Regions from separate parts of the Homo sapiens genome. Here all the other regions are linked to region 3. Evidence: fine-mapped expression QTL. A gene starts in region 3. Each other region holds a variant in brackets. All regions are shown on one strand. Distances are from middle to middle.

Region 1 (8,181 bases), 71 kb after region 3:
ACAGGCGCCTGCCACCACACTCACCTAATTTTTTGTATTTTTAGTAGAGACGGGGTTTCACCGTGTTAGCCAGGATGGTCTCAATCTCCTGACCTCATGATCTGCCCTCCTCGGCCTCCCAAAGTGCTGGGATTACAGGCGTGAGCCACCGCGCCCAGCCTGTTATTTTTTCTTTAAACAGTGAAGAGGGTTTCAAGGAATCTCTCCTTAAAGGCAAAGACCCTGCCCAACTGAGTGTTGAGGCCTTTGTAGTGGACTGACCTGGGTTAATTTCTGGCTCTGGGTTCTGCCTTGGGCAAATCACTTTCTTTCTCTAAGCCTCAGTTTCCTCCTCCATGCAATGGGCAGAGTAGAGGGGAATAAATGAGAATCATCTCAAGTATTGACTGGCTCAGCACAGTGCCTAGAATCTGTGTCTAATAAGTGAACTTTTATTTTCCCTTTTTTTTACTTGTTTATTTGACTACATGAATACCTTCAAAAAGTACAGAGTGAAAGTAAAGAGTGAAAAATGGGTGGGTCTCCCTTCCTCCCTGTTCCTTTACCCACCCACTTCCCTTTCAGAGATATAATCAGGATTACAGGTTTCAAAACGGTTTTGAATTTATAGGACTATAACAAGAATAATTCAGAGAATTCCATATACCCTTTACCCAGAATCACCTGTCTTTACTATTTTGCCATGTTTGTTTTATTATCTTTTCTTTCTTCATGTGACTATGTTTATTATTATTATTTTTCTGAACTATTATAGTTTTCATACATCATGCCGCATTTACCTCTTAATATTTCCGCATATGTTTACTAGGAACACGATATTATTTGCTGTAACCACAGCACTGTTACCAAATTCAGAAAATTTACCTTGATGCCCCATTTACCTCATAATATTTCAGCATGTATTTCCTAAGAACAAGATATTATTTGCTATAGGCTGGGTGCAGTGGCTCACTCCTGTGATCCCAGCACTTTGGGAGGCTGAGGCGGGTGGATCACCTGAGGTCAGGAGTTTGAGACCAGCCTGACCAACATGGCGAAACCCTGTCTCTACTAAAAATACAAAACTAGCCGGGTGTGGTGGTGCACACCTGTAACCCCAGCTACTTGGGAGGCTGAGGCAAGAGAATCGCTTGAACTCAGGAGGTAGAGGTTGCAGTGAGCTGAGACTGCACCACTGCACTCCAGCCTGGGCAACAGAGTGAGACTCTGTCTCAAAAATAACATAAAAGAAAATAGATATTATTTTCTGTAATCACAGCAGTGTTACTAAAAAATTTACCTTGATTACCATCCATACGCCAATTTTGTCAGTTGTGGTAAAAAAAAAAAAAAAAAAAAAAAGAATCCCTTACAGCTTTTTCCCGCCTAGTGCAGGATCCACTTCAGGACCATGTTTTGTCTGTCTTTTTTATTTTTTTTTTCTTGAGACGGAGTCTTGCTCCGTCACCCAGGCTGGAGTGCAGTGGCACAATCCTGGCTCACTGCAACCTCCACCTCCTGGGTTCAAGCAATTCTCCTGTCGCAGCCTCCCGAGTAGCTAGGACTGCAGGCGCCTGCCACCACGCCCTGCTAATTTTTGTATTTTTAGTAGAGATGGGATTTCGCCTTGTTGATCAGGCTGGTCACAAACTCCTGACCTCAAGTGATCCACCCACCTCAGCCTCCCAAAGTGCTGGGATTACAGGCTTGAGTCACCGCGCCTGGCCTAATTGTCTCTCATCTGAAATGATGCCTCTGCTTTTCTTTGTCTTTTATGACCTTGACATTTTTTGAAGAATACAGGCCAGTTATTTCATAGAATGTTCCTCATTTGGGGTTTGTTTAACAGAGTACCCCAAATTTCTGTAGGATAGGAATTCAGGAAGGGCATAGTGGGGAAAAATTCTATCTGCTCTAAGGCTCACTCCTGTAATGCCAGCACTGAGGCCTCAGCTGGAAAACTCAAAGGCTAGAAGCGAGAGTTACCTGAAGTCTCACTGTCTGGCAGCTAATGCAGGCTGCTGGCTGGGGCTTGGCTGAGGCCCCACACACAGCCTCTCTACGTATCCTGAGCTTCTTTCCAACTATGGCAGCTGGGATGGAAGGGCAAGCATCCAAATGGAGAAAGCCATACTGTCTTTTTTATTTTTTATTTTTATTTTTTGAGACGGAGCCTCGCTCTATCGCCCAGGCTGGAGTGCAGTGGTGAGATCTCAGCTCACTGCAAACTCTGCCCTCAGGGTTCAAGTGATTCACGTGTCTCAGCCTCCCAAGTAGCTGGGATTACAGACGCCCGTCATCATGACCAGCTAATTTTTTTGGAGACAAGAGTTTTGCTCAGTCTCCCAGGCTGGAGTGCAGTGGCATCATCTCAGCTCACTGCAACCTCCACCTTCTGAGTTCAAGTGATTCTCCTGCCTTAGCCTCCCGAGTAGCTGGGATTACAGGTATGTGCCACCACGCCCAGCTAATTTTTGTATTATTACTAGAGATGGGGTTTCACCATGTTGGCCAGGCTGGTCTCGATCTCCTGATCTCAGGTGATCCACCTGCCTCAGCCTCCCAAAGTGCTGGGATTACAGGTGTGAGCCACCGCACCCAGCCACTAATTTTTATATTTTTAGTAGAAATGGGATTTTGACATGTTGGCCAGGCTGGGTTTGAACTCCTGACCTCAAGTGATCTGCCCATCTCGGCCTCCGAAGTGTTGGCATTACAGGCGTGAGCCGCCACACCTGGCCTGTCAATATTGTTTTAATGATGGTTGCTCCTTCTCAGGCTTTCCTCACATACTGTTTTTTTTTTTTTTAGACAGGTTCTGGTTCTGTCACCTAAGCCTCCTGAGTAGCTGACATTACAGGTGTGTGCCACGAGCTTGGCTAATTTATTTATTTATTATATTAAATATATATATATTTATATATAATATTAAATAATATATGTATATATATTTATATATAATATATATATTAAATAATGAAATATATTAAATAATAAATAAATAAATAATTTATTTATTGTTTTGTAGAGATGGGAGTCTCACTATATTGCCCAGGCTCATCTCAAACTCCTGGCCTCAAGCATTCCTTCCACCTCAGCCTCCCAAACGGCTAGGATTACAGGTGTGAGCCACCACACCCAGCCCTCCCTCATACATTCAAATGGCCAACTCCCTTGGCTTCCTCAAGTCTTTGCTTAAATGCCATCTTCTCAGGAAGTCATTTTCTGAACACTCTATTAAAAATTGCAACCTGCCCCCAAACACGTCTTGCACTCACTGTCCGTGTCTCTGCTTAAATTTTCTCCGTAGCACTCATACCATCTAACATACTGTGCATTTACTTGTTTATTTTTATTTTTTTGAGACAGGGTCTCACTCTGTTGCCCAGGCTGGAGTGCAGTAGTGTGATCATGGTTCATTGTAACCTCTGTCTCCTGGACTCAAGCAATCCTCTCACCTTAGCCTCCCAAGTAGCTGGTACCACAAGTGCACATCATCACACCTGGCTAATTTTTGTATTTTTTGTACAGAAGGGGTTTCGCCATGCTGACCAGGCTCATCTCAAACTCCTGGGTTCCAGCGATCCACCCGCCTCAGCCTCCCAAAGTGCTGGGATTATAAGTGAACCATCATGCTGGGCAATTTATTTATTTATTTTCCGTTTCCCTCTACTAATGAATCAGCTCCAGGAGTGCAGGGACCTTGTCTGTTTTCTACACAGATGCGTTCCCAGCACCTAGCACAGTGCCTAGCAGGTATGTGAATGAATGAATGAATGAATCCATGCATGCATGAATGAAGTATCCTTGTACAAACCATGAACCATGTACATGTTAGGTGTCTACAACTTGTCGTTTGAATTAATGAATAAAAGAACAGGCAAGGCGCGGTGGCTCACACCTGCAATCCCAGCACTTTGGGAGGCCGAGGTGGGCGGATCATCTGAGGTTGGGAGTTCAAGACCAGCCTGACTAACATGGAGGAACCCTGTCTCTACTGAAAATAGAAAATTATCCAGGCGTGGTGGCGCATGCCTGTAATCCCAGCTTGGGAAGCTGAGACAGGAGAATCGCTTGAACTCGGGAGGCAGATGTTGCGGTGAGCCAAGATCGTGCCATTGCGCTCCAGCCTGGGCAACAAGAGTGAAACTCTGTCTCAAAAAAAAAAAAAAGAAAGAACAGACAGCACCAACCCTCCTTGTAAGTTCAATATGAGGTTGATCTGAAGCTGCCACCCAAGGCTACTGATCAAAATATCCTTCTAAACAAGTCTGTCCCACAGTCCTGGCGTCTGATAATATGGACAGTCAGGCTGGCTGGCACCAGACTGGACCCAGATGAAGGAATGGAATCAGGCCACATTACAGGGGCAAGAGGAGCCTTGTGGCCAGAGGTTCTAGAGGTCAGCAGCAAGTCATGCATCTGAAGAGGAAGTTGATTGCTGTACCTCAAGCTGAAACAGAAACTGCGGTGGCTAGCAAGGAAGGGTCCCCACCTGTGC[G/A]CCTCAGCCCCTTGGCCATTGCCAGCTTCCAACAGACCACAGAGACTTTTGGGGGAAAACTTTTTTATTGAAGTGTAACAGACATACAGAAAAGTGCACAAATAAGGAAAGTGCACAGGGGAGCGATGGCTCGATACATTTTCACAAAGGCAGACAGCGGGGTAACCAGCCCCCAGCTCAAGGAACAGAACATTCCCCGCCCCGGAGAAGCTCCCTTCAAGTCTTTCCCATCCTAAGCGATAACCGTTATCCTGATTCCAACAGCAGTGATGATTTTTGCCGTTTTTTGAACTTGATGAAATGGCAGCACATAACACGTATTCTTTTGTGTAAGACTTACTTACTACAAACTTTGTATGTTTGTAGCAACAGCCTTTTGACCCTGTCTCTTCCTCCATGCCCTCAAAGAGAAAAAGGAACCTAATAATAACACAAAATAAAGCGAAAGCATACTTGCTTGACTGGTTTAAATGTGCCATCTGGCCGGGCATTTTGGAGGCCGAGGCGGGTGGATCACTTGAAGTCAGGATTTCGAGACTAGCCTGGCCAACATGGTGAAACCCCATCTCTACTAAAAGTACAAAAATTAGCTGGGCATGGTGGTGGGCACTTGTAATCCCAGCTACTTGGGAGGCTGAGGAAGGAGAATCGCTTGAACCTGGGAGGCAGGGGTTGCAGTGAGCAGAGATCGTGCCACTGCACTCCAGCCTGGATGACAGAGGGTGACTCCATCTCTCAAAAAATAAAATAAAATAAAATAAAATAAAATAAAATATAAAATAAAATGTGCCATCCATTCTTTCATGCTTCAGCCACCCAGTGGGCTGGAACTGTTACTGCTTCCATTTCAAATATTGGGAGGCTGAGGCACAGAGAGGTTAAATAATTTGCTCAGCCAGGAAGTGAAGGTCTGTATTTAAAGCCAGGTCTCTCTGATCTCCAAGCTCATGTTCTAACCCAGCATACACTCCTTATCAATAAAATGACCATGTATTGAACACCCTCTTTGGACTGAATACTATACTTCAACTTTATGTCCATTGTCTTATTTGATTTTCCCAGCCGTTGATGAGTAATATACCATTATCCTTGCTTAGCAAATGATGAAAGCAGGGTTCAGAGAGGTTAAGGAACTTTCCTAACGTCATACAGCCCAGGAAGGCATGAAATAAAAATTTAAACTCTATTTTGTTGATTCCAAAGTCCAGTGCAGAACGATATCAGTACCCAGCATTTATGCGCATCTTTCAAATATACCTTCTGAGGCCCTGCAGGGTGGCTCATGACTGTAATCCCAGCACTGTGGGAGGCCGAGGTGGGTGGATCAGTTGAGGTCAGGAGTTCAAGACTAGCCTGGCCAATATGGTGAAACCCCGTTTCTATTAAAACTACAAAAATTAGCCGGGTGTGGTGGCACACGCCTGTAATCCCAGTTACTTGGGAGGCTGAAACAGGAGAATTGCTTAAACCCCGGAGGCAGAGGTTGCAGTGAGCCGAGATTGCACCACTGTACTCCAGCCTGGGTGACAGAGCAAGATTCTGTCTCAACAGAAACAAACAAACAAAAACAAATATACCTTCTGAGTTTTTCAAAAAAGAGACAACAATAGCAGTTACCTTTTATGGATCATCTCAGAGTCAGTTGTTTTGGTCAAAGATTGCAAATGATCCCTTAATTTGTGTTCTTGTCTTCTCTCTCCTAGTAAGAGTATACCTGATTTTTAGCTTGGCACATGGCTTCCCATGGCTTTACTACCTATCTCAGCCTTCCTTGCAGCTAGGGGTAGCCACATGACTAACTTATAGCCAGTGAAGAACTGTTCCCCGACATGCCCACATGGCTCATGTCAACCCCAGCATTACATCATTTGTTTAAACTCTCAGTTTCTCTGTCTTGAAAATAGGGATTTAAATATTTATTTAAGCCAGGTGTGGCTGAGGTGAGAGGATCACTTGAGGCCAGGAGTTCGAGACCAGCCTGGGCCACACAATGAGACCCCTGCCTTTACAAAACAATTTTTTAAAAAAATTAGCTGGGCATGGTGGCGTGTGCCTGTAGCCCCAGCTACTCAGGAGGCTGAGGTGGGAGGATTACTTAAGCCTGAGAGGTTGAGGCTGCAGTGAGCCTTGATTGCGCCATTGTGCTGCAGCCTGGATGACAGAGCAAGACCCCATCTCAACATATGTGTATACATCTATCTATCTATCTATCTATCTATCTATCTATCTATCTATAGCTATATCTGTCTCATCTCTCTCTCTCTCTGTCTATATATATATATATATATATATATATAAATAAATATGTTCTTTTTTTTTTAATTTAACAAAAGCAGGAAGTAGACAGACACAGTGGGTGGTTCATGCCAGTAATCCCAGCACTTTGGGAGGCCAAGGCGGGAGGATTGATTGAAGCCAGGAGTTTGAGACCAGCCTGGGCAATATAGTGAGACCCCTAACTCTACAGAAAGTTTAAAAAAAAAAATCAGCTGGGTGTGGTGGTATATGCCTGTAGTCCCAGCTTCTTCACATCACTGCACTCCAGCCTGGGCAATAGAGCATAACCCTGTCTCTTAAAAACAAAAAACAGGAATATATGTAGTAGAGTCACCTTGAGTGTGGATTGGGAGAAGAAGCTAGGACAGGAAGGACACTAATGTGTTTGTGTTGGGTAAACAAACCCTGTTTATTGGGAGACCACCTGCTCCAGAAGAAAAGACACCAGGTGAAGACAGGAAGCTGGGTGCTGCTAACTGAATGAGCTGGGACAAGGCCCTTCCCTTACCTAGGGATAGATAATAAAAAATATTTTATTGTATATTTTTAAGGTAGTAGTTCCTTGTCTGCAGAGTGGGGATTTAGATTACATCTATCCTTTTGGTTTTGTCTACTCACTATGAATTCCCCTATCATAACAGCATCCTAATTTCTCTGGGAGCCCCCTTCTTTACTCCCTGTCCATGTGAAAGGCATGCAGCACTAACTTTATCCTTGGTTCCAGGAAGGCCAATGCTCCATGCTGGCCAATCAGCACCCCTCATTTCTCTGCCCATAGGGATTGGCTCAGAAATGGGCACCTGCCCCAAGTGGACCAGTGAGTTATCCCTCAGGTTTTTGCTGGGATTGTTTTGCTTCTGCTGCGCTAGGCTGGTATGAAGAGGGTCTGAAGCTCAAAGGTAGCCACCATTGTGAGAGTGAAAGACTGAGCCCTGATAACTTATGAACCCCTGAATCCAGCTGTACCTGAAGGCAGCCACATATTCCTGAACATGTTATTCTCCATGAGTCAATATGGTTCCTCTTTGTTGTTTTTTTGTTTTTTGTTTTTGAAATGGAGTCTCGCTGTCACCCAGGCTAGAGTGCAGTGGCACCATCTCAGCTCACTGCAACCTCCACCTCCCGGGTTCAAGCAATTCTCCTGCTTCAGCCTCCTGAGTAGCTGGGACTATGGGCACGTATCACCACGCCCAGCTAACTTTTTTGAATTTTTAGTAGAAACAGGATTTTGTCATGTTGGCCGGGCTGGTCTTGAACTCCTGACCTCAAGTGATCCACCTGTCTTGGTCTCCCAAAGTGCTGGGATTACAGGCATGAGCCACCGCGCCCATCCTCAATATGGTTCCTCTTTGGACTTAAGTCACTGTAGCAGATGACGTGGCTTCTGTGTCCATATCCCCTTGGCATTCATCCTTTTGACCCAC
Region 2 (8,181 bases), 88 kb before region 3:
GTGTCTGCTTTTTAAGACTCTAGATAAGTTTCCATGTTGGTTCTGATTTTCCTCTGATTCAGGGGCCATTTAGAAATAATAGCTATTTTTCAAGAAGTTAAAATTTTGAGGTTGCTTTTGATAATTTATTCTGAATTTTATTGGATTATGAAATGAGAATGTGGCTTGGAAACATCTCTACTTTGCAACTTCACTTTGCCATTTACAAACTCTCACTAGACCAGAGTTTCCTTGCTGAGCATGTTTCCTCATCTGTAAAGCGAGCACAATAAACAGTGGCTACAGATTTATGCCAGGTGTGGTGGCTCATGCCTGTAATCCCAGCACTTTGGGAGGCCAAGGCAGGTGGATCACTTGAGATCAGGATTTCGAGACCAGCTTGGCCAACGTGGTGAAACCTCATCTCTAGTAAAAATGCAAAAATTAGCCAGGCATGGTGGTGCACACCTGTAATCCCAGCTACTCAGGAGGCTGAAGCAGGAGACTCACTTGAACCTGGGAGGCAGAGGTTGCAGTGAGGTGAGATAGCACCATTGTACTCCAGCCTGGGCAACAGAGCGAGACTCCGTCTCAAAAAGGAAAAAAAAAAAAGAGTTTCTATGGCCACCTGGGATAGGAGGCTTTTCTTGAAGCCACTTTACCCTAATAAACCCATTGTCTTTACTTATGTTGTATTTATATCTGCAGCGGCCTTGATGCTGTCACTGACCACTGGGACACCCCAGGCCTGACAGGCAGCTCCTGACACCAACTCAAATGCTAGTTCCGCCGGGTGCAGTGGCTCACGCCTGTAATCCCAGCACTTTGGGAGGCCAAGGCAGGCAGATCACCTGCGGTCAGGAGTTCAAAACCCCATCTCTACTAAAAGTACAAAAATCAGCCAGGTGTGGTGGTGTGCACCTTTAATCCCAGCTATTCGGAAGGCTGAGGCAGGAGAATCACTTGAATCTGGGAGGCAGAGGTGGCAGTGAGCCAAGATTGCACCACTGCACTCCAGCCTGGATGACAGAGCAAGACTTCATCTCAAAAAAAAAAAAAATTATTTTGCTGAGAGAAATCTGGACTATACATTCCAGCTGTGACCAACTTATGACACTGCAGCTATATTTTTATTAGTCAGTGGATCTAAAACCAAAAAGTGTGAAAAAAGAAAAATTTCTCAATGATAGGCAAACAAATCTTAATATGTGGTTTATTACTTTGTATTTGGTTCCACTGATTATTCTGTCAACAGGAATGTTAGTGGCCTTGCCACCAGCAAGGTTGGCAATCTTGGCTCCCAGTTACTTCTCTTGTAGGTCGGTCTTAAGAACAAGGCTTTGGCCAGGCGCAGTGGCTCACGCCTGTAATCCCAGCACTTCGAGAGGTCGAGGTGGGTGAATCATGTGGTCAGAAGTTCGAGACCAGCCTAGCCAACATGGTGAAACCCTGTCTCTACTAAAAAAAAAATACAAAAATTAGCCAGGCATGGTGGTGCGCGCTTGTAATCCCAGCTACTCAGGAGGCTGAGGCAGGAGAATCGCTTGAACCTGGAAGGTGGAGGTTGCAGTGAGCCGAGATCGCGCCATTGCACTCCAGTCCGGGTGACAGAGCGAGACTCTGTCTCAAAAAAAAAAAAAAAAAAAAAAAAAGAAAAAGAAAAGAAAGAAAGAAAAAGGCGTTAAGGCTTTAGGATTGGATGTGGTGGCTCATGCCTGTAATCTCAGCACTTTGGGAGACTGAGGCAAGGGGCTCACTTGAGGTCAGGAGTTCAAGACCAGCCTGGGCAACATAGGGAGACCTCGTCTCTACAAATAACTTAAAAATTAGCCAGGTGTGATGGCGCATGCCTGTAGTCCCAGCTACTCGGGAGGCTGAAGTAGGAGGATCACTTGAGACCAGGAAATTGAGCCTGCAGTGAGCCGAGATCGCGACACTGTACTCCAGCCTGGGCAACAGAGCAAGAGTTTGTCTCATTAAAAACAAAACAAAACAAACAAACAAAAAAAAACAGACAACAAAAATAGCAAGAGTACTTTAGATTTATAGACGGTGCTTTGCAGTGAAGCTGCCATGATGAAAGCTTCCATTGACCGACCACCTGTCGTGTGTGAAGCATTGTTCTTGGTAACTCACATATGTTGCTGCATTTCCTCTTCACAATAACTTCATGTGGAAAGTTTTACCACCTCCCTTCTCCAAATGAGAAAACAGTATAAGAGAAATGTGACTTTACCAAGAGCACCCAGCTTCTGAGTGGGTTCAGCCTGGGGGTGTCTGGCTCTTCCTACATCTGGAATCTTCAGATTGAGAAGGTTCATTGTCATTTACTCAGCAAATATTTGAGCATCTGCCCCTTGCCTTCTGTCCTGCAGTATGCCGAATTCTGGACTAGGTGCTGGAGATGGAACAGGGAGCAAAACAGCGTCCTTTGTCCCCTGTCCCAGTTGGGAAGAAAGACAAAGAAAAGACAAACAAAACAAAACAAGACGAAAACAGCACTTCACAGTATATATGATGTTAGAGAGGGACGGGGCAGCTAAGATTCTCAACAGTTCATTTCAGTACTAAACTGTTTTACTTCTATTCTGTTTCTTTTCTTTTTTCTTTTTTTCTTTTTTTGAGATGGAGTCTCACTCTGTTGCTCAGGATGGAGTGCAGTGTCGCGATCTCAGCTCACTGCAACCTCCACCTCTCGGGTTCAAGCGATTCTCCTGCCTCAGCCTCCTGAGTAGCTGGGGTTAGAGGTGCCCGCCACCACACCTAGCTAATTTTTGTGTTTTTAGTAAAGACGGGATTTCACCATGTTGGCCAGGCTGGTCTCGACCTCCCAACCTCAGGTGATCCTCTGCCTCAGTCTCCCAAAGTGCTGGGATTACGTGCATGACCCTCTGCACCCAGACTCTATTCTATTTCTGTCATCAGGCGGATTGACAGACACAAAAATGTAGTGTCTCTATTGCCCTAGATCTCTTTAGCCATGTCCGAGGACCAAGGAATGTAAAATTTATTTGTTTTTGAGACAGGGTGTCACTCTGTTGCCTAGGCTAGAGTGCAGTGGTGGATCCTCCCACCTCAGCCTCCCGAATAGTTGGAAGTACAAACGTAACACCATCATGCCCAGCTAATTTTATATATATATATTTGTAGAGACAGGGCCTTGCCATGTTGCCCAAGTTGGTCTTGAACTCCTGGCTTCAAGCGATCCTCCCACCTCGGAATCTCAAAGTGCTGGGATTACAGGCGTGAGCCACCGTGCCGCCCAGCCCAGGGTTCTGTTGTAATGAGCGCGTCCTTCTTGTGGTGTGTCCTTTCTTCACTTGCAGTCTTCACTCACAGCCCTGCCATTTCTTGTTCCTGTGTAATCTGTCACTTTGTGGCACTTCCTTTTCCTCTGTGTTGACAGAGCCTGGCTTGTTTAGCCACTCTTGTGTCCTCAGGGGGTTTGATTTCCTTCCATGTTATTGCTATTATGTGTTACATAGCGATGAACTAGCCAGGACACATTGTTATTTTTCCCCTGGTTTGCCTCCCTGTTCGTAATCCTCCGTCACCGTTCACATTTCTATTGATTTTCAGCCAAACTCGGGGGTTGGCAAATTACGGCCACCCACCTGTTTTTGTAAATAAAGTTTTATTGGAATGCAGCCAAGCCTGTTTGTTTACATATTGTCTGGGGCTGCTTGAGCTATGAGGGCAGAATTGAGAAGTTGAATAGCTGAGTGACAGAGACTGCATACAGCCCCTGTGACGGTGGAAAAAACAACTGTTTTTCCTCTGCTCTCACACTACAGCAATCAACACTAAAGACTTTTTTTTTGAGACATAGTCTCACTCTATCACCCAGGCTGGAGTGCAGTGGCACAATCTCAGCTCACTGCAACCTCCGCCTCCGGGTTCAAGTGATTCTCCCACCTCAGCCGCCAGAGTAGCTGGGATTACAGGCACCCACCACCACGCCTGGCTAATTTTTGTATTTTCAGTCAATATGGGTTTTCACCATGTTGGCCAGGCTGGTCTCGAACTCCTGATCTCAGGTGATCTGCCCACCTCAGCCTCCCAAAGTGCTGGGATTATAGGTGTGAGCCAGTGCACCTGGCCACAGAACATCTCCATGACCAAATGTGTGTCTGTTTTTCCCCAAGCACCAAGCAGTGGACACCAGCGGGGCATCCCCCAATTCCACTCCGATGCTGTCTACCTGAAGATAGCCTCGGGTCACACAGGTTGAGGGCTCAGTCCCCAAGA[C/T]TGTCCCCTCCTTCCCACCAGTCACAAGTCCAGGCTTCCAGAACTTCTGACCGATCAGCTCCAAACCCGCTCTTTGGGTTTAATTTATTTGCTAAAGCAGCTCACAGAACTCAGGCAAACTTACTTTTACGTCTACTGGTTTATGACAAAGGTTCTTTTAAAGGACGCAGTTAAACAGCCAGATGAGACACACACAGTGAGGTCTGGAAGGGTCCTGAGCCTGTCCCCATGCCACCCTCCCAGCACGTGGATGAGTTCTTGTTCACCTTCTTACAAACCTCCGTGTGTTCAGCTATCTGGAAGCTCTCTGAGCCCTGTCCTCTTGGCTTTTTTTTTTTTTTTTTTTTTTGAGACAGGGTCTTGCTCTGTCACCCAGGCTGGAGTGCAGTGGTGCGATCTCGGCTCACTGCAACCTCTGCCTCAAGGGTTCAAGCGATTCTCCTGCCTCAGCCTCCTGAGTGAGCTGAGATTACAGGCATGTGCCACCACGTACAGCTAATGTTTGTATTTTTAGTAGAGAAGGGGTTTCCCCATGTTGGTCAGGCTGGTCTCGAACTCCTGACCTCAAATGATCCACCTGCTTCAGCCTCCCAAAGTGCTGTCTCTCCATCTGACTGCAAGGAAATGAAGTTGCAGGGAAGTGAAGTGACTTCCCCAGGCCATGGAGTTGTTGGCTGTAGAAGTGCAACCAGCAGATCATCTCTCCTGGGCCCTGCTCTTCCTAGAATTCACAGTGGAAGATGTATACCCTACTCCCACCTATTCCTTACCTCCGAGCCTCCCTACACAGCAGAGACCTCTCTCCTACATGACTGCCACCCACCATTGTCCTAGAAATAAGTCAAACAGTGGCATTTGTCAGTCCCACATCTAGTCGTAGCAGGGTGCTGTGTGGGGCGGGCGTGGTGGCAGAGAAAAGGTGTGTCTTGGAGCAGTGAGAAAAGTACTCAGGGCTGTGCTTCCTCAAGGAGTCTCATGGCATGTAGCCTGCCTGGAAAGTTTTCTGCCAGCATCTAGCAGGTTGCATTTCACAAGCGGCATAAATCCTCCTTAACCGTTTGCCCTTACAGCTAGTTTGCATGTGATGGTAAATCTGAATTGTTACTCAGTGACTGTATTTATTAAGAACAGCCCACCTGCAAGGTACTGTGGCATCGAGGGTACCAGGTTAGGAGGAAACTAGCATTTTTTTTTTTTTAGACAGAGTCTCGCTCTCGTTGCCCAGGCTGGAGTGCAATGGCACTATCTCAGCTCACTGCAACCTCCACCTCCCGGGTTCAAGTGATTCTCCTGCCTCAGCCTCCCAAGTAGCTGGGATTGCAGGCGCCTGCCGCCATGCCTGGCTATTTTTTTGTGTATTTTTAGTAGAGACGGGGTTTCTCCATGTTGGCCAGGCTGGTCTCAAACTCCTGACCTCAGGTGATCCGCCCAAAGTGCTGGGATTACAGGCGTGAGCCACAGCGCCTGACCTCAGCAAAAGAATTTGGTAAGTCTAGAGGTAAAGCTTAATACTGTAAAGATGCTAAAGATGCTGTCTTCCCAGATCATTAATTTAGTGCAATGTCAGTCATGATCCTAGATTTTAAAAAGCAATTTTTTAAAATATAGAGACAGGGTCTCTTTGTTGCCCAGGCTGGTCTCAAACTCCTGGCTTCAAGTGATCCTCCTGCCTTGGCCTCCAAAGTACTGGGATTACAGGCATGAGCCACCATGCCTGGCCCTTAAATAGATTTTTAAATATAACTTGACAAAATAAATCTCACCGGATTGAGAAAATACATAAACATAGCCAAGAAAAACAATTTTTTTGAGTCAGAGTCTCATTCTGTGTCACCCAGGCTGGAGTGCAATGGTGCAATCATGGCTCACTGTAGCCTCACTCTCCTGGGCTCAAGTGATCCTCCAGCCTCAGCCTCGTCGGTAGCTGGGACTACAGGCACACACCACTGCACCTGGCTAATTTTTTCTTAAATTTTTGTAGAGACAGGGTTTCACTATGTTGCCCAGGCTGGTCTTGAACTCCTGGCCTCAAGTGACCCTCCTGCCTATGCCTGGCTGAAAATTTTGATGAGAATGGGGTTGTGTAAGTATGTTCACCCTGACAAAAGAGCTGTTTGCTTTGGATTTATGGACTTTTCTGTATGTATATTACACTTCTATAAATGTTTACAAAATTTGGGGTAGGATATAGAAAGTAGAGATAAACTTGTCTTATAAAAACATACTACAGGGCTATCATAATTAAAACTGTAAGGCATAATAAGACAAATAGCTCAATGAAATGGAAGAATCTTGCTACAGAATTTAATGTGTAAGACATGGGGAAATTATTGATTGTTCAATAAATACTGTTGAGACAATTAGCAATCCATTTGGAAAAAATAAATTATAGACCGCCCCTCCTGACCATATCATACACAAAATCCCCTTTAATTCCAGGGGTTAAAGATATAAATAGCATGATCATTCACTGATGGTAGAAGGATTAATTCATACTGCCTTTTTGTAGGACAACTTGGTAGGCTCCTTCAACATTTAAAATGTGCAGGTGGGGCGTGATGGCTGACGCCTGTAATCCCAACACTTTGGGAGGACAAGGCGGGTGGATCACTTGATCCCAGGAATTTGAGACCAGTGTGGGTAACATAGTAAGACCCTGTCTCTACAAAAAATACACTAATTAGCCAGGTGTGGTGTGTGTGCCTGTGGTCTCAGCTACTCAGGAAGCTGAGTTGGGAAGATAGCTTGAGCCCGGGAGGTTGAGGCTGCAGTGACCCATGATCGCACCACTGCACTCCAGCCTGGGGTGACGGAGTGAGACCTTATATCATAAACAAATAAATATATGTATGTATTTGTGTGTGCATGTGTGCATATATATGTGTGTGTGTGTGTGTGTGGGTGTGGGTGTGTATCCCTTGCTCCAACAATTTCATTTCTTGACTCTCTCAAGTTGGCCTACACATATATGTGCACATGGATTGATGTGCATCTGTGTTCACTGTGGTGCATATAATGTGATAGTGGAAAACTGGAAACTACCTCCATGTCCATTAGGAGGGGAATGGCTAAATTACATACATCCACACAAGAGATTACCATGTGTCACAATTCAAATAATAAGATAGGTTCAGTCATTCATGCAACAAATATTTATTGAGCAACTACTATGTGCTAAGACCAGTTCTTAGCTCTGGGGATAGAGCAGAAAACAAAACAGTCTCTGCCTTCATGGGGATTATATTTTAGTGGGGTTGACAGCCAATGAACAAAGAACAATAAAAATATAGTACGATTCAGAGTGAGAATATTGTGAATCAATAAAACAGGGTAAGGGGGGACAGGGACAGGGAGGTGGCATTTCAGACTGGGTGCTCATCAAATCTTCTCCAAGGAGGTAACATCTGGGCTTTATTTGAGGGAGCTCTTCATTCACGGAAAAGAGGTCTCCAGAAACATTAAGAAAAAACAAAACAAAACAAAAGTAATTACAGGACAACTTATGGTTTTTAAACTATGCCTTTGTTTTCCTAAGCATGCATATAGGTATACAGGTATAGATCTGGACATCAGCCAATGGCTGGACATGGTGGCTCACACCTGGAATCCCAGCACTTTGGGAGGCCAAGGCAAAAGGACGGCTGGAGCCCAGGAGTTCGAGACCAATCTGGACAACATGGTGAAACCCCATCTCTACAAGAAATACAAAAATTATAAAAATTAGCTGAGCGTGGTGGTGTGGGCTTGTAGTCCCAGCTACTTAGGAGGCTGAGGCGGGAGGATCACTTGAGCCCAGGAGGTTGAGGCTGTGGTGAGCTACAATCGTGCCACTGTACTCCAGCCTGGGTGACAGAGACTCCGTCTCAAAAAAACTAAAAAATGTAGACATCAGTCAAACTGCTAATATTAAAGGAGTGGTTTAACACTTATTTTCCAGCAAGCACATATTCACGT
Region 3 (8,171 bases):
CCCAGCCAACCTAGTATTATTTTCTAAGCTCATTTTAATAACTATTCAAATAAGGTCTTCATAACCCAAGGAACACAAAACAACCTTCTATTTCTCCAGATTGCCTTAACCTTGAAAAAATTTGCCGCCCCACTGTCCAAAGCTAGACATTCTAAAAATTTAAGTTCAACAGAGCCTGTGCATCATAGTGAGATCCTGTCTCTACAAAAAACTGTTTTAAAAGTTAGCCAGGCAGGGTGGCATGTACCTGGAGTCCCAGCTACTCAGGAGGCTGAGGGAGGAGGATCCCTTGTGCCCAGGAGATCAAGGCTGCAGTAAGCTATGAGCATCACTGCACGACAGCCTGGGCAACAGAGACTCTCTATCAAAAAAAAAAAAAAAAAATTAGTAGGAAGGGCAAACAGCTAAATGTAACTACTCCACATCCTTTTTTTATTGTTCCCCTTTCTCACGAACAAAATTTCCATCCTAAGTAGAATTCCCCTTCAGAAGGCTTACATTCAAGGGGATACAGTACTAATGAAAATGTAAGTGCTCTGCCTCTTTTTCAGCTATCAGTGATATAGGATTCTAGGCATGGCAGTAGCACATCGCTTTACACAGGGGTTCCACTGACCTAAAAATCTACTGTTGAGGAATCTTAATTAAATTGATAAGTTCCATTTCTGTTGAAGAATCTGGCTTCTAACCTTTCTATCAAAAGGGTGATTACCATCCCAGTGGGATATAGTTTTCCATTTAGATATAGCTGATTTATGGACTCAGACCAGAAGTACCTGTCACTTTCACAAAAGGAGAAAAAAAGGATTATGGCTCTAAGACTGCCTCTAGGTCCAAATCCCATCTTTTCACACCCATTTTTATTAGAGTCTAATAGCCAACATGCTAATGAACTCTTTTCTCAGTTAATTCCACTAATTAGTTATCTCTTCTTGTTCTGCCAGAATCCCAACCCTTTTACAATCTACTCATCAAATCCATCAGGCCACATATTATGCCTTCCTAGAGGAACACTTTTCGTGATGACACTTTGTAAACAAGGCAATCTGATGCTGCCTGTTCTATCTTCCCAGATCTAGTTGATAGTTCAAAACATCAACATTAACCACAAGTAAAATATGCTTAAAAAATAATCAGGAGACGATCTCCTGCTCTATCTGGAAATTTCTCTATTCAGCTAGTTCTGCGTTGACAGGTCAACAGAGAATGGCACTAGTTATTGCTACAATCCTAAAAGGCATTTCCCTACAGCTAAACCATCAACCCTTTCCTAAAATCCATATAATCCAAAATTTTTCTAGCAGAATTTACTCTCCCTGCCCCTACCCCAGCAGCATCTTCTGATCATTTTTCACCATAAACTGAGGTTTCCTCATAGTGATGCCAAGTCAGGCAAACACATTCCTTAAGCGTTCCACCTAACTCCCTTCTTCCTGGAAGTTACATGTAATAGCTGCCTTTATTTACTTATTTTTAAAACTCTTCAAGCACCAGGTACAGTGGTAAGTGCTTTTAAAGAACATGTATCTACTTCCATCCTTAACACTGTATGAGATTGGGACTCACATTCCCATTTTACAGAGGAGAAATGCAAAGGCTTAGTAACCTGCCCAAGGTCATACAGGGCAGAGATTGGAATCCAAGTCTGACCTCTGTGTCCTCCGCTCTTAACCTTCATGCTGTCTTTCCTTCTGATCTCTTCCTGTCCTAACTGGTGCCCTGTGGTCTTATAAAAGACTATGCTTGGGGCAGGCGGGGGAGGGGTGGGAGGGTCAGTTTCTCCAGAGACCGCCTTTCCTTTAAAGGATAAGACTTTGAAAAGAAGGAGTACCCATTACATCTTTCCTCCATGCTCCCCCTTCTCACCTGGTACCATTTCCCAAAGGCCCCAATCATATCCCCTTCTCTACGGACAATTTAAACTTCTCCTTTGTCCGCAGAGCAGGCACTATCCAATACTGAAGAACCACACCATCTACCCTCAAGGCTAGGAGAGGGCAGAAGTGGAAGAAAGAACACAGACAGCACCCCTTCCCCAGGTCTTCAGTTGAGAAAGAAGCTGTGGCTGAAAGTCTGGGGGGCTGGGGGCAAAGGTGACAAGGATGTGCCCTTGTGGGTACGCGAGGTGGGGGGGGGGGAGATGGGGAAGAGGCATGGGACGCTCAGGGGATTAGCAGGAGATTGAATGGGGGTGGACCTCTGTAAGGGGAAGGGGGGTGCCACCGGCAGGCAGAGAGATCAGGCCACTGAAGAGGTGAACGTGAGTTAGGGAGGAGGACCTGGAGGTGGATGTAATAGGGGAAGTAGAGGAAGAAAGGGGAGGGAGGGGGCTCACGGGAGCAGGAAACGATGGAGTCATGGGGAGTGGGGGAGGATGGATGGGAGCTAGAAGGTGGGGCGGCCTGGGACCCGGGCACATGGGCTCGGCGAAGAGCGGGCGCGCCGCGGGGGACTGGGGTGCGGGGAATGCCGGGAATGGGGGTTCGAGGAGACCCCGGGGAAGGGAAGGGGAAGCGGGAGTTCTCGAGCAGAGGAGCGGGAAGTGGGAGTTCCAGCGAGGCAAGAGCGGGAAGGGGGTTCCGGAGCAAGGGGCGGGCGTGAAGGTACAGTCGGGTTCGCGAGGGTGGCGTTAGGAGGGGCGGGGTGGGCCGGAGGCTGGCGCGGGAGAGGGATCCCGGGCGCCTGTTGGGGTGCGGAGGGCAGGAATGTCCTGGCGTCCCCGAGAGCCGGGCCAGGACTCCGGAGTCTTCGGAGGACCAGGCTCAGGGCCGCCTCCCGGCCGGGGCCCCTTAGGGAGGGGCGGGGATTCCCCGGGTCCCTCAAGGCCAGAGCGGCAGCCGCCGCGGTCCCAAGCCCCCTTCCTACCTATGCCGGGCGCCACATAGACGAAGTACAGCAGCGAGGACGAGAGAGAAAAGAAGAAGAGCGCGGCGAGCAGCGAGCGGCGCGGCAGCCGCAGCAGCCCCCGGCGGGCGCGCATGCTGCAGCCAGGCGGCCGCTAGAGAGCCAGGCCGGGCCTGCTCCCGCAGCTCCCCGTCCGCCGCCTCCTGGGCCGCCGCCGCCACCGCCTGGGCCTCGGCCACCGCCTCCCGGGCCTCGCGGGCCGCCACTCGCCGCCGCCGCCGCCTCGCCGCTCCCAGCCGCCGGCCGTCGCGGGCCGGGCCACATGAAGCGGGCGGGGGCCAGAGCGGCCCCGAGCGGGCGCAGCGGCGGGGGCGGAGGCGGGGCGCACGCGCGGGAGGCGGGGCCAGTGCCGCCGGGCACCGTCGCAAAAGACCCGCGCGCTTGCGCTCGCCGCCGACCCTCGCTCGGCGCCCACAGCAGCCCGCATGGAGTAATCGCCAAATGGCGACAGACCCTCTCCCAGTGCGGCCACCGCCCAGGCTTTCGGGGAATGTCTCCCAAGTGCTCCGCGCTAGCTCGTCCCCCATCTCGGGGGCCAAGGGGCCATCTACAAAGTCTGACTCATCTCGTTGCCCACTGCAGCAGAAGAGTGGGGACTGCAAGGCTTGGGGGTTCGGCCTGGTATACACCCTCATTCATTCATTCATTCATTCATTCAATTCACCATTTATTTATTGAATGCCAGACACAGTTGTTGGCGCTGGGCATGCTACAGAGAAAAAAAACGATAAAAATCTCTGTCTACTTGAAACTTACATTATGTGAGAGATAAAAGAAACAAATCAGCTAGTAATATCAGGTACTGGTAACACATATGAATACGATAAAACAGGAGGATGTATTGCAGGCAGGCTGGAGTGGTCAAGGAAGGCCTCACTGAGCAGTGACACGAACTGAGATATAAAAGGGTGAGAAAGCGCCAGCTTTTTTGAATAAGCTGGGGAAAAAGCAGTCATACCAGGGGGAACAGCAGGTGTAAAGGCCCTGAGGTAGGAAAAGGGCTGATCTGCCCCCGAGTTGAATCCAAGGCCAACATGGATAAAATCCAGTGAAGTAGGGGGGGAAATAGGGATGAGCTTGGAGCTGTAGTCAGGGATCCTACTGTATCAGAAATAGCATAATGATAACAATTGTCAATGTCTCTAGACTTCTGCTGAGAAACATGGACTTCACTCATGCCATGAAATTCCCCCACCAGTCTTGAGATGTGTGCTGTTATTATTACTATCATACAAATGAGGAAACTGAGGTTTCTAGATGGAAAGGCAATTCACCCAAGCCTTGCAGTAAGGGCTTAAATCAAAACTGGCCTGTCTCCCATGTCAGGCCCTTGACCTCTAGGTTGTAACTGTCTCAGCAGTCTGTATGACCTCTAATTCTTATCCTGCAGGCAAATCGGTATCCTATCCCCATCACCTGGGTATGGGACCATATCCAAAAAAATGCTTTCAGATCAGCATCAGCTCAAAGGACCTCAGAAGGCAATGAACAGTCCTAGAAATTTATGGCAAGAAGCAGTAGCCTCAAGGAGCTGGACTGAGGAGGCCAGTGTCCCTGTGTAGACATATCTGAAACTAGGGTACTGTCTTGGAATGCCAGAAGCAGTGGGGAGGGGAGAGGACTTTGCAGGGATTCTGTGAGAATCAACAATAATTCTGATTTATATTCCTAAAGTGATTTCTACTTTTTACAGTGTTTCTTTGATCCTTTAAGTGGGGAGTCTAGAGCCACACTGCCCAGGTTCTCTGACTCCCAGCTTTTCCATTGTTAGCTGTGTGACCTCACGCAAGTTAAACTCTCTGTGCCTCGGTAAAATGGAGGAGGTTATTAGCAACCTCATCAGGTTGTTGCGAGGATTTAAGTAATACATGCAAAGTGCACATAGTAAGAGTGCTTAGCTGTCACCTAATTCAATACCCCTGGAGAATGGTATGGTGGAAGAGAAGAGGCTTAAACGATCAAAAAGGAAAGCAGAGAATTTTGACTCAGATAGATGTGAGTTCAAATCTCGGCTTGGCATCTCCTGGCTGTGTGACTCTGGGAAAGTCACTTACCTCTCTGAGCTTCTCTATTCATCACCTGTGAATCGGACCCAGTGCTGCCCACCCCACGGGGATGTGATGTGGATTCGATGAAATAGTGCAGGTAAGGCCCTGGACCAGAAATCCCAGACTAGCCGGAATCATCTAACTTGCAAATAGTTTTTGTTGGCCCACACAATGGCCCCTCCCAACCCTCGTATCTATGAAACATTTTCAAACATACAGAAAAGTTGAAAGAATAGTACAAGAAACATCTGTACACTCCCCACCTGGATTTGATCATTGTTATCATTTTTCCACATGTATGTATCTATATTCATATGTTGAAAATTTTTATTTTTTGCTAAATATTTAAAGGTAGGCTGGGCGATTACACCTGTAATCCCAGCACTTTGGGAGGCAAAGGCAGATGGATCGCTTGAGCTCAGGAGTTTGAGATCAGTCTGGCCAACATGGCAAAACTCCATTTCCACAAAAAATACAAAAGAATTAGCTGGGCGTGATGACGTGTGCCTATAGTCCCAGCTACTTGGGAGGCTGAGGTGGGAGGATCTCTTAAGCCCAGGAGGTGGAGGTTGCAGTGAGCCAAGATAGCGCCACTGCACTCCAGCCTGGGAGACAGAGTGAGACCCTGACTCAAAAAAACAATAAAAAAAAGTAAGTTGTTGCCTTACTAGTACTTCATGCCTTAATACTTCAGTAGCAAATCCTAAGGAAAATTACATTATCCTTCAAAACCACAGTAATACTAAGAGAATTAACAATTATACCATAACATTCTGTAACATCCAGTCTGTTCTGGATAGACAGAGAAAGAGAAACCTTCCTACATTTAAACTATGTACCAATGATCAGTCTCTATTTCTGACCTATCTGAAATAACAAGGCATCAAAATAAATTGGTTATGTTTTAGGCCGGGTACAGTGGCTCACGCCTGTAACCCCACCACTTTGGGAGGCCGAGGCAGGCAGATCACTTGAGGTGAAGAGTTTGAGACCAGCCTGGCCAACAACATGAAACCCCATCTCTACTAAAACATACAAAAATTAGCTGGGCGTGGTGGCACGTGCCTGTAATCCCAGCTACTCGGGAGGCTGAGGCAGGAGGATTGCTTGAACCTGGGAGGCAGAGGCAGAGGTTGCAGTGAGCCAAAATCGTGCCATTGCACTCCAGCCTGGACAACAGAGTGAGACTCCACCTCAAAAAAAAAATGCAAAATACAAAAATTAGCCAGGCACGGTGTCAGGCAGCCTGTAATCCCAGCTATTTGGGAGGCTGAGGCACAAGAATCGCTTGAACTCTGGAGGTGGAGGTTGCAATGAGCTGAGATCATACCACTGCACTCCAGCCTGGGCGACAGAGCAAGACTCCGTCTCAAAAATAAATAAATAAACTGGTTATGGTTTTTGTCTGTTTGTTTGTTTCAGTGGAGTTTCGCTCTTGTTGCCCAGGCTGCAGTGCAATGGCACATTGTCTGCTCACCGCAACCTTCGCCTTCCAGGTTCAAGAGATTCTCCTGCCTCAGCCTCCCAAGTAGCTGGGATTACAGGCATACGCCACCATGCCCGGCTAATTTTGCATTTTTAGTAGAGACAGGGTTTCACCATGTTGGTCAGACTGGTCTCGAACTCCTGACCTCAGGTAATCTGCCTGCCTCGACCTCCCAAAGTGCTGGGATTACAGGCATGAGCCACCGCCTCCGGCAGTTTATGTTTTTAAATGGAAGAAAAAGAAGTATGTCAGGAGTATCCAGGGATCCCTACCTCAAACTCCTTCCTCCACACTACTTTTTCATCTCCAAGTTAGGTTTCCAACTCACTAAAGCATGTATTCATTATATATTCATTTGACTATTCAGCTCCTCAGACAAACTCACTGTATTCTAATCTCTGCTCAAATGTTACCGTCTCAAAAAGACCTTTCCTCTAAAGTAGCTTTCTTCTCCCCATCCCAGCACTCTCTATCCATAGCCTTCCTCAGCTTGATTTTTCTCCATAGCACTTTTTATCCCCTGACATTCTACTATACATATACGCGTTTACTTGTTCATTTTCTTCTCCCAGATCAGAATGTAAACTTCACGAGAGCAGGGATTTGGTTTCACTCTCTGCTGTATCCTTGCACCTAGCACAGTGCTCAGCAGCCAGTAGGCGCTGAATAATTGTTGAAGGACGACAGGTGTGCAGTGACTGTGTGCTGGGCATGGCAGATGCAAAGATGACTAAGACATTCTTGCAGCCTAGTGACATATGAGCTACAGGAAAGTGACTAACTGAGGGACACTGTCATAAGGGCAGGACTCAGCATGGCTGGCAGTAGGAAAAGGTGTTCTGTGAGATTCTAGATGGTCTTTGAAGGGACATTGAGACAGGTTTGCTCAAGGGGCAGTGAGAAGAGGCCTGCCTGGTTGGAGCAGCTAGTCCTGCCAAGGAAAAGAAAGAGGTGAGGGGTGAGGCTGGAGGAGTGAGGCCTGACCCTGTGGCTCAGCATGGGCCCTGGAATTAGATGGATCTGGCTGCCAGTCTTCCTTCCTCCCTGCCCTCACTCTGTCATCTTGGCAAGTCACTTCACCTCTCGGAACCTCCATTTCCGCATCTGTAAAATGGAGATCAGACAGTTCCTTCTTTCTAGGATTGTGCACAGATTACAAATAGTATCTCTATAAAGGGCCTGATATGTAGGAAGTGCTCAATCCATGGGAGCCATCACTATTCTTAACTTTTTCCTCTGAGCCATAGAGAGCCCTTGAAGGTTTTAGCGCAGGGGAGTGGCCTAAAGAAAGGGAGGTCCTTGGTGAAATCTCAGGAGAGCACAGGTTGGGCCTCTTGTGCTTGTCAACACCCAATTGCAGGCTAGCTGAAATCACACACATAAAGAAAACAATCCGGCAGGGCATGGTGGCTCATGCCTGTAATCCCAGCACTTTGGAAGGCTGAGATGGGCAGGTCACCTGAGGTCAAGAGTTTGAGACCAGCCTGGCCAACATGGTGAAACCCCGTCTCTACTAAAAATACAAAAATTAGCCAGGTGTGGTGGTGGGCACCTGTAATCCCAGCTACTCGGGAGACTGAGACAGGAGAATCACTTGAACCCAGGAGGCGGAGGTTGTAGTGAGCTGAGATCGTGCCACTGGACTCCAGCCTGGGCAATAAAGAACAAAACTCCGTCTCAAGAAAAAAAATAAAAATAAAAAAAGCCGGTGCATCCTTCCCTCTACTTTTCCT

What was found. PIP is the estimated chance that this variant, and not a neighbour inherited with it, causes the effect.
Region 1: its variant is fine-mapped to the expression of B4GALT5 in whole blood (TOPMed, PIP above 0.99).
Region 2: its variant is fine-mapped to the expression of B4GALT5 in whole blood (TOPMed, PIP 0.90).

Annotation. Positions count from the first base shown.
Region 1 is chr20:49,781,550-49,789,730 of GRCh38, forward strand. No RefSeq gene overlaps it. Among named protein-coding and RNA genes, the nearest start is that of SLC9A8, 27 kb to the right of the region's middle. RefSeq lists enhancers at 2,084-2,607, 4,134-4,373. The variant G/A (reference allele first, on the strand shown) is at 4,481.
Region 2 is chr20:49,622,420-49,630,600 of GRCh38, forward strand. LOC124904926 (a long non-coding RNA gene) reads right to left here. Exons shown (of 2, transcript XR_007067638.1): 2 at 7,365-8,181. Among named protein-coding and RNA genes, the nearest start is that of PTGIS, 58 kb to the left of the region's middle. RefSeq lists an enhancer at 4,804-4,873. The variant C/T (reference allele first, on the strand shown) is at 4,228.
Region 3 is chr20:49,710,711-49,718,881 of GRCh38, forward strand. B4GALT5 (beta-1,4-galactosyltransferase 5) reads right to left here and starts at 3,168. Exons shown (of 9, transcript NM_004776.4): 1 at 2,866-3,168. The coding sequence starts at 2,980. RefSeq lists silencers at 2,641-2,760, 3,051-3,380.